Regions from separate parts of the Homo sapiens genome. Here regions 2 and 3 are each linked to region 1. Evidence: fine-mapped expression QTL. A gene starts in region 1. Each other region holds a variant in brackets. All regions are shown on one strand. Distances are from middle to middle. Region 1 holds the start of PTGDR (prostaglandin D2 receptor). Region 2 has its middle 39 kb from the start of LINC02319. Region 3 has its middle 47 kb from the start of LINC02319.

What was found. PIP is the estimated chance that this variant, and not a neighbour inherited with it, causes the effect. A credible set is the group of variants that fine-mapping cannot tell apart.
Region 2: its variant is the best candidate, but not a certain one, in a credible set for the expression of PTGDR in whole blood (INTERVAL, PIP 0.71).
Region 3: its variant is the best candidate, but not a certain one, in a credible set for the expression of PTGDR in whole blood (INTERVAL, PIP 0.75).

Annotation. Positions count from the first base shown.
Region 1 is chr14:52,266,058-52,270,057 of GRCh38, forward strand. PTGDR (prostaglandin D2 receptor) reads left to right here and starts at 1,641. Exons shown (of 2, transcript NM_000953.3): 1 at 1,641-2,603. The coding sequence starts at 1,758.
Region 2 is chr14:52,162,720-52,167,073 of GRCh38, forward strand. No RefSeq gene overlaps it. Among named protein-coding and RNA genes, the nearest start is that of LINC02319, 39 kb to the left of the region's middle. The variant A/G (reference allele first, on the strand shown) is at 2,196.
Region 3 is chr14:52,170,660-52,175,013 of GRCh38, forward strand. No RefSeq gene overlaps it. Among named protein-coding and RNA genes, the nearest start is that of LINC02319, 47 kb to the left of the region's middle. The variant C/T (reference allele first, on the strand shown) is at 2,024.

The DNA.
Region 1 (4,000 bases):
CATCAGGACCAATAAATATTAGCTCTTATTATTATTATTACACTATGCCAAAGCACTTCAAGTTTTCTCAACCTCACAACAACCCCACAAGTTCAGCATAAGTCTCATATTCCATTAGGTTGAACAACTAACCCAGGGTCACACAGCCAGTGGTGGAGTTCAGAACTATCTAATTCCAAGCTTAGATTCTTCTTTTCCACCCTGTGGCCTGAATTACTGGCCAGACTTTCAGTCTGGAGGCAGCCTCTCTGTCTACCCTTCAGGCTTTCACATCTAAATCCCAAGGGTCTTGCTCTTTCCCTGAGTCTGTCCATCAGAACTGGCATGAGGCCTAAAAATGAGCCGTTTCAAGCCCAGGCATCATCTACTCACTTACATAACAAAACCTTAGTCATCCCACTGAGATTCCACACTCAAAGCCAATTTCTCTCACAGGGCATCGAATGCTAGTTAAAGATATAAAATCACGCTTATCACAATTAACTCCCTTGCCTTTATGATGCAGCCAAGTCAAAGCCCAAACAGGAATAAATTTTTTCTAGTAGCCACAAATCAGAGGAGTGAGAAAGCTCTATGCCAAATCTACCATTTTCTGATTTCAAAATCCATGCTAAAAACTGCAGTTAAACATCAGCTACCAAAACACCCTTCTATCAAATAAGAATCATGGTGATTGCATGAATTGAGCACTTTCTATGTACTTGCTCTTTACGTGTTATTTCTATGCCTCAGAAGAGCCAAGCAGGCCAGATAGATGTTACTGCTTGAGAGGCTAAGCAAGTCCCATAAGGTCACACACACAGTGAGGAGCAGAACCTGGACTCAAACCCAGGCCTATCTGATGACAGCAACAGTGCTGCTAACCATGCCCTTCCCCCCAGCTCTCTACAGTCAATGTGATTCATGGCACCCAGGACCAACACCGGCTCTTGGCTTTCCCACAAACCACTTCCCTGAAATCTGGACAACTTCTTGGGAGGAGGAGTCATGGGAACAGGACAGATGAACTCCAAAATAGAAGATCGGGTGAGAGGTCCGGCTCTGCTACTTCTGTAGCTCTGTCACCACGGGCAGATCACTTAACTTTCCAAGGCCTCAGTTTCCTCGCCTATGCAATGGAGATGACCGTGAATGCCCCAAATTGCGCTGATCTAGTAGAGAAGAGGAGCTAAGGCTCAGGGGCTTTCCAGACGTGAGTTATCTTTACCTTTCCTTGACTAGCTAATTCAAGACAACTAGGTAGAAGCCCTTTCTCAGCCTCCCCTCTTCGCTCATCTTTCGAGTTCTTGGCCACCCCAGTTCAAACACCAGCACCATTGCCCTCCTCTCAGGTGGCTGCTGCTTAATTTCCCCTCCACTTTAGTAGTTCTTCTCTTGCCTCGCTAGAAGGACTGGTGTTGGGTGCTTGGAATTCTGGCTATTTTCCTCCTGCCGTTCCGACTCGGCACCAGAGTCTGTCTCTACTGAGAACGCAGCGCGTCAGGGCCGAGCTCTTCACTGGCCTGCTCCGCGCTCTTCAATGCCAGCGCCAGGCGCTCACCCTGCAGAGCGTCCCGCCTCTCAAAGAGGGGTGTGACCCGCGAGTTTAGATAGGAGGTTCCTGCCGTGGGGAACACCCCGCCGCCCTCGGAGCTTTTTCTGTGGCGCAGCTTCTCCGCCCGAGCCGCGCGCGGAGCTGCCGGGGGCTCCTTAGCACCCGGGCGCCGGGGCCCTCGCCCTTCCGCAGCCTTCACTCCAGCCCTCTGCTCCCGCACGCCATGAAGTCGCCGTTCTACCGCTGCCAGAACACCACCTCTGTGGAAAAAGGCAACTCGGCGGTGATGGGCGGGGTGCTCTTCAGCACCGGCCTCCTGGGCAACCTGCTGGCCCTGGGGCTGCTGGCGCGCTCGGGGCTGGGGTGGTGCTCGCGGCGTCCACTGCGCCCGCTGCCCTCGGTCTTCTACATGCTGGTGTGTGGCCTGACGGTCACCGACTTGCTGGGCAAGTGCCTCCTAAGCCCGGTGGTGCTGGCTGCCTACGCTCAGAACCGGAGTCTGCGGGTGCTTGCGCCCGCATTGGACAACTCGTTGTGCCAAGCCTTCGCCTTCTTCATGTCCTTCTTTGGGCTCTCCTCGACACTGCAACTCCTGGCCATGGCACTGGAGTGCTGGCTCTCCCTAGGGCACCCTTTCTTCTACCGACGGCACATCACCCTGCGCCTGGGCGCACTGGTGGCCCCGGTGGTGAGCGCCTTCTCCCTGGCTTTCTGCGCGCTACCTTTCATGGGCTTCGGGAAGTTCGTGCAGTACTGCCCCGGCACCTGGTGCTTTATCCAGATGGTCCACGAGGAGGGCTCGCTGTCGGTGCTGGGGTACTCTGTGCTCTACTCCAGCCTCATGGCGCTGCTGGTCCTCGCCACCGTGCTGTGCAACCTCGGCGCCATGCGCAACCTCTATGCGATGCACCGGCGGCTGCAGCGGCACCCGCGCTCCTGCACCAGGGACTGTGCCGAGCCGCGCGCGGACGGGAGGGAAGCGTCCCCTCAGCCCCTGGAGGAGCTGGATCACCTCCTGCTGCTGGCGCTGATGACCGTGCTCTTCACTATGTGTTCTCTGCCCGTAATTGTGAGTCCCCGGGCCCCGAGGCAGCAGGGCACTGAGACTGTCCGGCCGCGGATGCGGGGCGGGAAGGGTGGAGCGGATCGGGATGGACGCGGCGCCAGGCGAGCTGCGCCCTGGGCCAGGAAGGTTTGCTGCTGAGTTCCCCAAATTGGATTCCTTCCACAGCCCCGAGATATAACTCAGTTTGCGGAGCGAAATGAGGGAAAGTTAGAGAAAGGAAGGGAAAGGCTGAGCCCGGCGGTGTCTCCCTAGCCCAGCAAAACCCTCTCCATGTGGCAGAACTCCCTCCTCTCTGCTTCCTTCTGGGGAGATCTCGAGGTCATTTTTGCGCCTTAGGAGGAGCAGAACTTAGTTTCTCCTTGGCAACAGGAGTCTTCTACTTCCCGACGGCTGGGTGATGTTTTATTTTGTTAGACCTGCTCATGACTTCAGTGGTATCAGAAATGGGCGAATGGCGTCTGGGACGATCTTCTCCCCGGTGTTGGCATAGAAAGGGAAAAAGAGGTTTAAGCCAGCCAGAGTGATTTGCAGATGCATAGTTTTAATTTTGAAAAACGCGTGCGTAAACTTTGAGACGCCACGGCTGCTGTTTCTGGTGCTGCATCCGCCAGGGATTGTGGCGATGGAGGCCGAGGCTCTTTGTATGTTTTAGCTGCTGGTGTCGTTTTGACAACCTGACTTGACGGGTTTTGAGTGTATCTTGGCAAGTGAGGTGACATGAAAGCCATTATCTCCGGTTTCAATTTGGTAATGAGGATAGCGATGGAAATGAAATTATCTCCTCATTTTGAAGGCATTTGTTCCTGGAGTCCCCGCCAAGACACCTGGGAGTAGGTGAGGCTTGAGGAAACATTTTCAGTGCTGCTCCTCTCCTTTCTCCCAAGGTACCTGTTCAACAAAAACAATACTTACAGAAATTCCATTGCCAATCCCACGTTCTCGAAATCCTGAGACTTCTGTGAATAGGAAAGTTGTTAAATTTCTTCTCAGAATGTAGCCATTTTGGATATTACTTTCAATGGTGAATGAAAGGGAAATACAAAGCGATTTTCCTTTAAATGAAGGCCTTACTGCTTGCGGAAAAAGAAGTCTGGGGCATCAGCATGCAGGGGTGGGAACAGTATGCCCCCAAAATAAATAAACAAATACATAAATCTATATCTATCTAAATGTAGATATAGGCGCAGATGACATATAGCAGTGGTCTTCAGAATCACCAGCTCAGAATCACCAGCAAGGCTTCTAGAAAAAAAGATGGCTGGACCCCATTCCCCAGAGTTTCTAATTCAGACATTTTTAAAGAATTTTCATTCTTAACAAGTTCCCAGGTGATATGCAAGCTCAGATTCAGGGTTCACATTTGTAGAATCACACTCTAAAACAGGAGTTAGCAAACCACA
Region 2 (4,354 bases), 100 kb before region 1:
AAACCCTAGAAGAAAACCTAGGCAATACCATTCAGGACATAGGCATGGACAAGGACTTCATGATTAAAACACCAAAAGCAATGGCAACAAAAGCCAAAACAGACAATTGGGATCTAATTAAACTAAAGAGCTTCTGCACAGCAAAAGAAACTACCATCAGAGTGAACAGGCAACCTACAGAATGGGAGAAAATTTTTGCAATCTACCTATCTGACAAAGGGCTAATATCCAGAATCTACAAAGAACTCAAACAAATTTACAAGAAAAAAACAAACAACTCCATCAAAAAGTGGGCAAAGGATATGGACAGACTTTTCTCAAAAGAAGACATTTATGCAGCCAACAGACACATGAAAAAATGCTCATCATCACTGGTCATCAGAGAAATGCAAATCAAAACCACAATGAGATATCATCGCATGCCTGCTAGAATGGCAATCATTAAAAAATCAGGAAACAACAGATGCTGGAGAGGATGTGGAGAAATAGGAACGCTTTTACACTGTTGGTGGGAGTGTAAATTAGTTCAACCATTGTGGAAGACAGTGTGGGGATTCCTCAAGGATCTAGAACTAGAAATACCATTTGACCCAGCGATCCAATTACTTGGTATATAACCAAAGGATTATAAATCATGCTGCTATAAAGACACATGCACACGTATGTTTATTGTGGCACTTTTCACAATAGCAAAGACTTGCAACCAACTCGAATGTCCATCAATGATAGACTGGATTAAGAAAATGTGGAACATATACACCATGGAATACTATGCAGCCATAAAAAAGGATGAGTTCATGTCCTTTGCAGGGACATGGATGAAGCTGGAAACCATCATTCTCAGCAAACTATCACAAAGACAGAAAAGCAAACACCGCATGTTCTCACTCATTGGTGGGAGCTGAAAGATGAGAACACTTGGACACAGGGCAGGAAACATCACACACCGGGGCCTGTCTGGAGGTAGGGGGCTGAGGGATAACATTAGAATAAATACCTAATGTAAATAACGAGTTGATGAGTGCAGCAAACCAACATGGCACATGTATACCTAAGTAGCAAACCTGCACGTTGTGCACATGTACCCTAGAACTTAAAATATAATTTAAAAAAAAAAAGAAAGAAGGAAAGAAAGAAAGAAAAAAAAATTTTGTCACCTCTAGACCTATGCAGGATCAATGATCAGGTGGCTAAGTTATCATCATATCAAATGAGGTTACCAATCTTAGTAATATTAACAAAATTAGTTATTAAGACTGATTGTTAATATCTAATATTCACTTTAAAACATGTAGATGTAACTTGAAGTAGAAGATTTCCTTACGTACTTTGTAGAGTGAAATTCTCTCAGTTATATATTGAAATTCTCTGAGTTCTCCCAATTTCTCAAAAGGAAAATGCTGCAACAATTCATAATTATGAAAAGTTAAATAAAAAGGAAAACAGATTAATGCTAATTAAAATATTAAGAGAAGATGCATTCACCGGAGAGTTTTATGAAATAAAATATATCCTTCTAAAACAACAAATATTTATGAGACCTTAAATAATAATGCAAGGTAGAATAATAGAAATTTACTTATAATTCTCATCTTTGTAGAATTGTTTGGTACGCAGACATTGGTAACATTAGGCAAAATAACTTGTAGGAATTATATTTAATTTTTAGTTATTTCACTCCATTTAGGCTGAGTCTTTTAAGAAAATGTTTTATTTTCAAATTGCTCACATCTTGTGAAAATGAGAAGGAAGCAGAATGTCAACTTTGTCACCTAAAATGTTTACAAGAAAATAAAAACAATGAATCCTGGACTACAGCATGCATAATAAAACATCTTTTATCCAATCATAATAAAAAGTAAAAAACTTGAAGAAAACGTGTTGGGAACAGGCCCCCAAGTCTGGCCATAAACTGGCCCCCAAACTGGCCACAAACAAAATCTCTGCAGCACTGTGACATGTTCATGTTGGCCATGACACCCACGCTGAAGGTTGTGTTTACCAGAATGAGGGCAAGGAACACCTGGCCCACCTAGGCTGGAAAACCACTTAAAGGTATTCCTAAACCACAAACAATAGCATGAGGGATCTGTGCCTTAAGGACATGTTCCTGCTGCAGATAACTAGCCAGACCCATCCCTTTATTTCAGCCCATCCCTTTATTTCCCATAAGGAATACTTTTAGTTAATCTATA[A/G]TCTATAGAAACAATGTTTATCACTGGCTTGCTGTCATTAAATACGTGGGTAAATCTCTGTTCAAGGCTCTCAGCTCTGAAGGCTGTGAGACCTGATTTCCCACTCCACACACGATATTTCTGTGTGTGTGTCTTTAATTCCTCTAGTGCCTCTGGGTTAAGGTCTCCACAACTGAGCTGGTCTTGGTAAGCAGCGCCCAACATGGAGGCTCGAACCCAGGTTGAAGGGTCACCAGAGTGATGGCTGGAAAACCTGGAACTAAGCTGGAGGACACCGGAGTACTCTTAAGCAATGCCCGTGTTGAGTAAAAAGGGTAGCTCAGAAGCATCAGGGTAACAATGAGACAAGTGTGGGCTCTGGTTCATTCCACCTTGGAACCTTTTCACACTAATGATGAGGAGGAAGGAAAGTATAACAAAGTAACAGACCAGGTTTGTTTGCCAGCTAAAGCTAAAGCAGCAAAGGAGGAAGAGGTTCATCCCTACCCTTCTGCACCCCCTCCTTATTTTGAAGAAAAAGAGTGGCCTGACCCTCCAGATCTTTCTTTTCTGGAGGACCCTGGGAGAAAAGTAGTTGCCCCAGTGACTGTTCAAGCAGCTCCTTGAGTGACCGCTGTCAGTTCTATTCTGGCAGGAATTCAGCAAGCTAGACGAGAGGGTGATATAGAAGCTTGGCAGTTTTCTGTTAGAATACACCCCCCCCCCCCCAGATCAACATTTGAGCCTTTTCCTTTTAAATTCAGGAAACACCATGAGGGGCCCATCCTGGGCCCCATTCCAAACCAGGGCATTTCTGGCTCAGGCCATTCCTTCACCCCTGTACAATGTCTGTCCCCCACCACAGCTGGTAGTGCCACAGTAGATTTATGCTGCACAAAAGCTGTGAGCCTTCTGCCTGGGGAACCCCTGCAAAATGTCCCAACAGGAGTCTGTGAACCCTTGCCAGTGGGGATGATAGGATTGCTTCTAGGAAGGTCTAGTTTAAATGTAAAAGGAGTACAAATACATACAGGAGTAATTGATTCAGATTACAATGGTGAAATTCAAATTGTTGTATCTACATCTGTTCCCTGGAAAGCAGAGCAGGAGAGTGTACAGCACAGCTCCTGATTGTGCCATATGTGGAAATGGGGAAAAGTGAAATTAAACAGACAAGAGGATTTTGAAGCCCAAATAAACAAGGCAAAGTGGCTTATTGGGTGAATCAAATTACTGATAAACGTCCTACCTGTGAAATAACTATTCAGGGAAAGAAATTTAAAGGTTTGGTAGATACAGGAGTGGACATTTCAATCATTTCCCTACAGCACTGACTGTCCATGTGGCCAATTCAACTCACTCAATTTAACATAGTTGGAGTTGGTAATGCCCCTGAAGTATATCAAAGTAGTTATATTTTGCATTGTGAAGGGCCCGATGGACAACCTGGAACTATTCAACCAATTATAACTTCTGTACCTATAAATGTATGGGGAAGAGATTTATTACAACAATGGGGAGCACAAGTTCTAATTCCAGAACAATTATATACCCCACAAAGTCAACATATGATGCATGAAATGGGGTATGTCCCTGGTATGGGACTAGGAAAAAATTTGCAAGGTTTGAAGGAACCGCTTCAAGCAGAAAGACAAAGTTCCCACAAAGGTTTAGGATATTGACAGGTGACAACATGCGGCCGGCCCTCGCTCCCTCTCAGTGCCTCCTTGGCCTTGGCGTCCATTCTGGCCATGCTTAAGGAGGCCTTCAGCCCGCCACTGCACTGTGGGAGCCCCTCTCTGGGCTGGCTGAGGCTGGAGCCAGCTCCCTCTGCTTGCAGGGAGGTGTGGAGGGAGAGGCGTGGGTGGGAACCGGGGCTGTGCGTGGCGCTTTTGGGCCAGCGTGAGGTCCAGGTGGGCGTGGGCTCAGTGGGCCCTGCACTCAGAGCAACCAGCCAGCGCTGCCGGCCCTGGGCAGTGAGGGGCTTAGCACCTGGGCTTAGCAGCTGCAGAGGGTGTGCCAGGTCCCTCAGCACTGCCAGCCCACCCGCGCCATGTTCGAATTCTTGCCAGGCCTCAGCCACCTCCCCACAGGGCAGGGCTCAGGACTTGCAGCCTGCCATGCCTGAGCCCCCCTGTGGTGGGCTCCCAAGTGTCCCAAGCCTCCCTGATGGGCACCGC
Region 3 (4,354 bases), 95 kb before region 1:
AGAAGCCATAGTGGAAAGAATGAATCTCTCTGAAACAGCAGTTGCAAAAGCAGAGGGGGGAAAACAGGGACTAAGGGACACCCCATATGCAATTGAATCTAGCATTATTAACTTTAAATTTTTTGAGCCTGCCTAAAGGCCAGATATTATCAGCAGCTGAACAGCATCTACAGAAACCAGCTGCAAAGACAGAAGCAGAACAACTGGTTTGGTGGAGAGATCCAATAACAAAAAGTTGGGAAATATGTAAAATAATAACTTGGGGTAGAGGTTATGCTTGTGTTTCTCCAGGACTGAATCAATAGCCGATTTGGATACCATCAAGATATCTGAAACCTTATCAGGAGCCAGATGCCAAGGAAGAGATTTTGGGAGGATCCCAAGGACCCCTCAGTTGCAGCCATGTTGAGACTGATGCAGGAGGACCCCAACTGTCACAAGCAACACCTGTCAAACACAGCCACCTACTTGGGGACAGATCAAGAAGCTGTCACAGATGGCAGAAGAAAACCTGAGGAAAGCGGGACAACCAGTCACAATGAGTAATTTAATGGTAGCTATGATACTGGTGATCACCATTGCTATGAGTATTCCTTCAACAAGGACTGACACAGAGAACAATCATACTTATTGGGCACATTTGTCAATCTTGGCTGGCAATAATGCCTGGATGTAATCACTCTATGACACAGTTACACATGCTTTCTGATATCAGCATTTATCATAATGAATCTGCTCCTACAATTAAGGCAAACTGCCCTCAAAAACCTATTTGTAAACAGGATTGGACCTGGCCAGAAAAAATGAATGTACTTGTTAAGGAAGATTGCATTGCAGAACAGGCAGAGGTGCTGCGCAATGATTCCTATGGAATCATTATTGATTGGCCCCCTAAGGGGATGTTTAGCTTGAATTGCACCTCTCAGTCGGCATGCCACAGCCACACCGTGTTCAGCTGGTCTGAACAAAATGGTCAGATGGTAGAAATGGTAAGAAGTATGGCAAGAGTTCCTATTATCTGGAAACATGGCAGTACAGTGGCACCTCAACCTCAAATGATATGGCCAGTTGTAGGAGCTAAACATAAGGCTTTGTGGAAACTATTAATAGCTCTTAACAAGATCAAAATTTGGGAAAGAATAAAAAAGCATCTATAAGGACACTCTACAAACTTGTCTTTGGATATTGCAAAATTAAAAGAACAAATATTTAAAGCATCTCAGGCACACCTGACCTTAATGTCAGGAACTGGAGTGCTTGAAGGAGCTGCAGACAGATTAGCAGCTAGTAACCCATTGAAATGGATAAAAACACTGGGAAGCTCTGTGATTTCAATGATGATTGTGCTTTTAATCTGTGTTGTTTGTCTTTGTATAGTCTGCAGATGCAGATCCACACTCCTGTGACAAAGCTGCCTTTGTTTCACTTTGCAAAACAAAGAAGGGGGACATGCTGGGAGCAGGACCCCAAAACTGGAAACAAGCAAAATCTCTGCAGCACTGTGACAGGTTCATGGTGTCCATGACAACCACATTGAAGGTTGTGGGTTTATCGGAATTAAGACAAGGAACACCTGGCCCACCCAGGCCAGAAAACCACTTAAAGGTGTTCTTAAACCACAAACAATAGCATGAGCAATCTGTGCCTTAAGGACATGTTCCTGCTGCAGATAAATAGCCACACCCATCCCTTTATTTCCCATAAGGAATACTTTCAGTTAGTCTATAATCTATGGAAACAATGTTTATCACTGGCTTGCTGTCAATAAATATGTGGGTAAATCTCTGTTCAAGGCTCTCAGCTCTGAAGGCTGTGAGGCCCCTGATTTCCCACTCCACACACAATATTTCTGTGTGTGTGTCTTTAGCTTCTCTAGTGCCACTGGGTTAGGGTCTCCATGACTGAGCTGGTCTCAGCAAAATGGAGAAATGTTTCTACTAATTAACAATTTTTCTAGTAATAAAACTTCAAATAGCAAAACTTCCAAATCTCCTTAATTAAAACACTTTATAATTTTGAGTCT[C/T]TTATAGAGGCCAAAAATTTAAATGGAAACTTGTCAAAATAATTGCCATGTACTGCCAACTATTTGCAATAATCAAACAGAAAACATTTTTTGGCAATTTGCTGAAGCTATGAATTCTAGGTACAAAAGTTCCTCACAGAAAAACTAGGCATATCAGTTGGTGAATTTTGGTCCTACTAGGCTGGCAATGTTACACAGAAAAGCAGTATTAAGACTTGTTTTTGTTCAAACAGCTTCTTTAACATTGCACAGCTTTCATTCCATCTTAAATCAACAAGTTGAATGAGTAGACAAGGCAGTTCCAAATCCCTTGTATTCAGGTAGATTGAGATGAAGATTAAGGCAAGGGGCCCACTCTCTCACTGTCTACTTCTAATACTTCTGTTACCTTACTCTGTGCTATCATCACTGTCTGAACACACAACCAAGCCTATGGCCAACACATCAGATGCTTGTGGCTCCCAAATAATCAATAGCCTCCATCATGGCTGTCATATTGTCATTGACAATTGCCTAACACTTTTCTTCACTGACTTTCCATTATGTAAATATCTCCTCAGTTAGGTTTAATGTGATTTTAACTGTGTGAGACCCAGAAGGCTCTTGGCAGCCAAGTGAAATAGAAGCAGAGGTCAACAATAATCAACATTAATTCACCAAGTGGTCACACATGACATGTCCAAATGTCAAATACAAAATACAGAATTAGGACATTGTAAACAACATGGAGAAGATTATAATTCAGGAAGTTTTTTTTCTGTCAATCTAGCAGATCAAAAATCCAACAGTTGTTTGCAGAAAAAGCAGCTTGTATCCTGGAGTATGCTATAGAGTATACCAAACTGATGTGCCTTGAGAGGCCAAGTATCTTTTATATGTGACCTGTTGTAAAGCTCCATCTATCCTTCTATTCCAGGATAGATGCTGGAATTAGAGTGCATACAATAAAAATTGAGATACAAATGGAAATTTAAAGAGAAATTTTCTAACTTTCAAAGCCAATTGCATCTATCCATTGCCACATTTCTAGATCAGGATATAAGTACAAAACTTTTGATAAAGTTTTGATAAACCATCCAATGCCTATCTGCCCACCTATCCCCCAAAAAAAGAAAAAGAAAGAAGGGCAGTGATATTAAGTCTCTTTCTAAATATATTTAAGCCTCGTTTAAAGGAAGTGGTTTGCCTCAATGAAATTGCATTATCACCATCATTTAAGTTTTAATTGCAGAAACCAAAGATGAGTTAACTCTCTGCTTTAGGCAGTTACTATTAGAGAGGGAAAAAGACTTGGTAACTTAGTGTTAACATTACAATCAGTAATTATCCCACACTGGCAGAGCTAGCCAAAATGCTTCTACTACTACTACTACTACTACTACTACTACTACTACTACTACTAAAATCTTCCACTTGGCCAGGCACGGTGGCTCACACCTGTAATCCCAGCACTTTGGGAGGCCAAGGTGGGTGGATCATGAGGTCAGGAGATCAAGACCACCCTGGCTAACATGGTGTAACCCCGTCTCTATTAAAAATACAAAAAATTAGCCAGGTGTGGTGGCGGGTGCCTGTAGTCCCAGCTACTGGAGAGGCTGAGGCAGGAGAATGGTGTGAACCCAGGAGGCGGAGCTTGCAGTGAGCCGAGATCACACCACTGCCCTCCAGCCAGGGTGACAGAGTGAGACTCTGTCTCTACAACAACAAAAAAAAATCTTCCACTCTACTCACCTCAGTTAAAACCAGCAATGCCTTTAGTATTGCCAATGTGCAATATAGTGACCCTTGGAGCATTCCACAGCTGACAGTGCTGAGAAAATTGGGTTTCTGCTCAACAATGTCAAATTTCAAATATTTGACTACTAAAATTTTTCATAATAAAATTGAAAATTGAAATATTAACTGAAACTTTACACTTATTCTCATATCTCAGAAATTTAATCAAATGATGGTGCTATTTGGTGTTAGCCTTGGTTTTGGACAAACATTGATTTTAACATTCACCCATTTAGCATTTGGCCAAAACATGTATGTGCTGCATCTCCATTTTCCTTCTGTCTTCATGGACTTTAATTTCTCAATTCCTTTACTGTTCTTTTAGTGAGATTTTTGTTTGTTTGTTTTTGAGATGGAGTCTTGCTCTGTCACCCAGGCTGGAGTGCGGTGGCATGATCTCAGCTCACTGCAACCTCTGCCTCCTGGGTTTAAGCTATTCTCCTGCCTCAGCCTCCTGAGTAGCTGGGACTACGGGTGTGCACCACTATGTGTGGCTAATTTTTGTATTTTTAGTAGAGACGGGGTTACACCATGTTGGCCAGGCTGGTCTTGAAC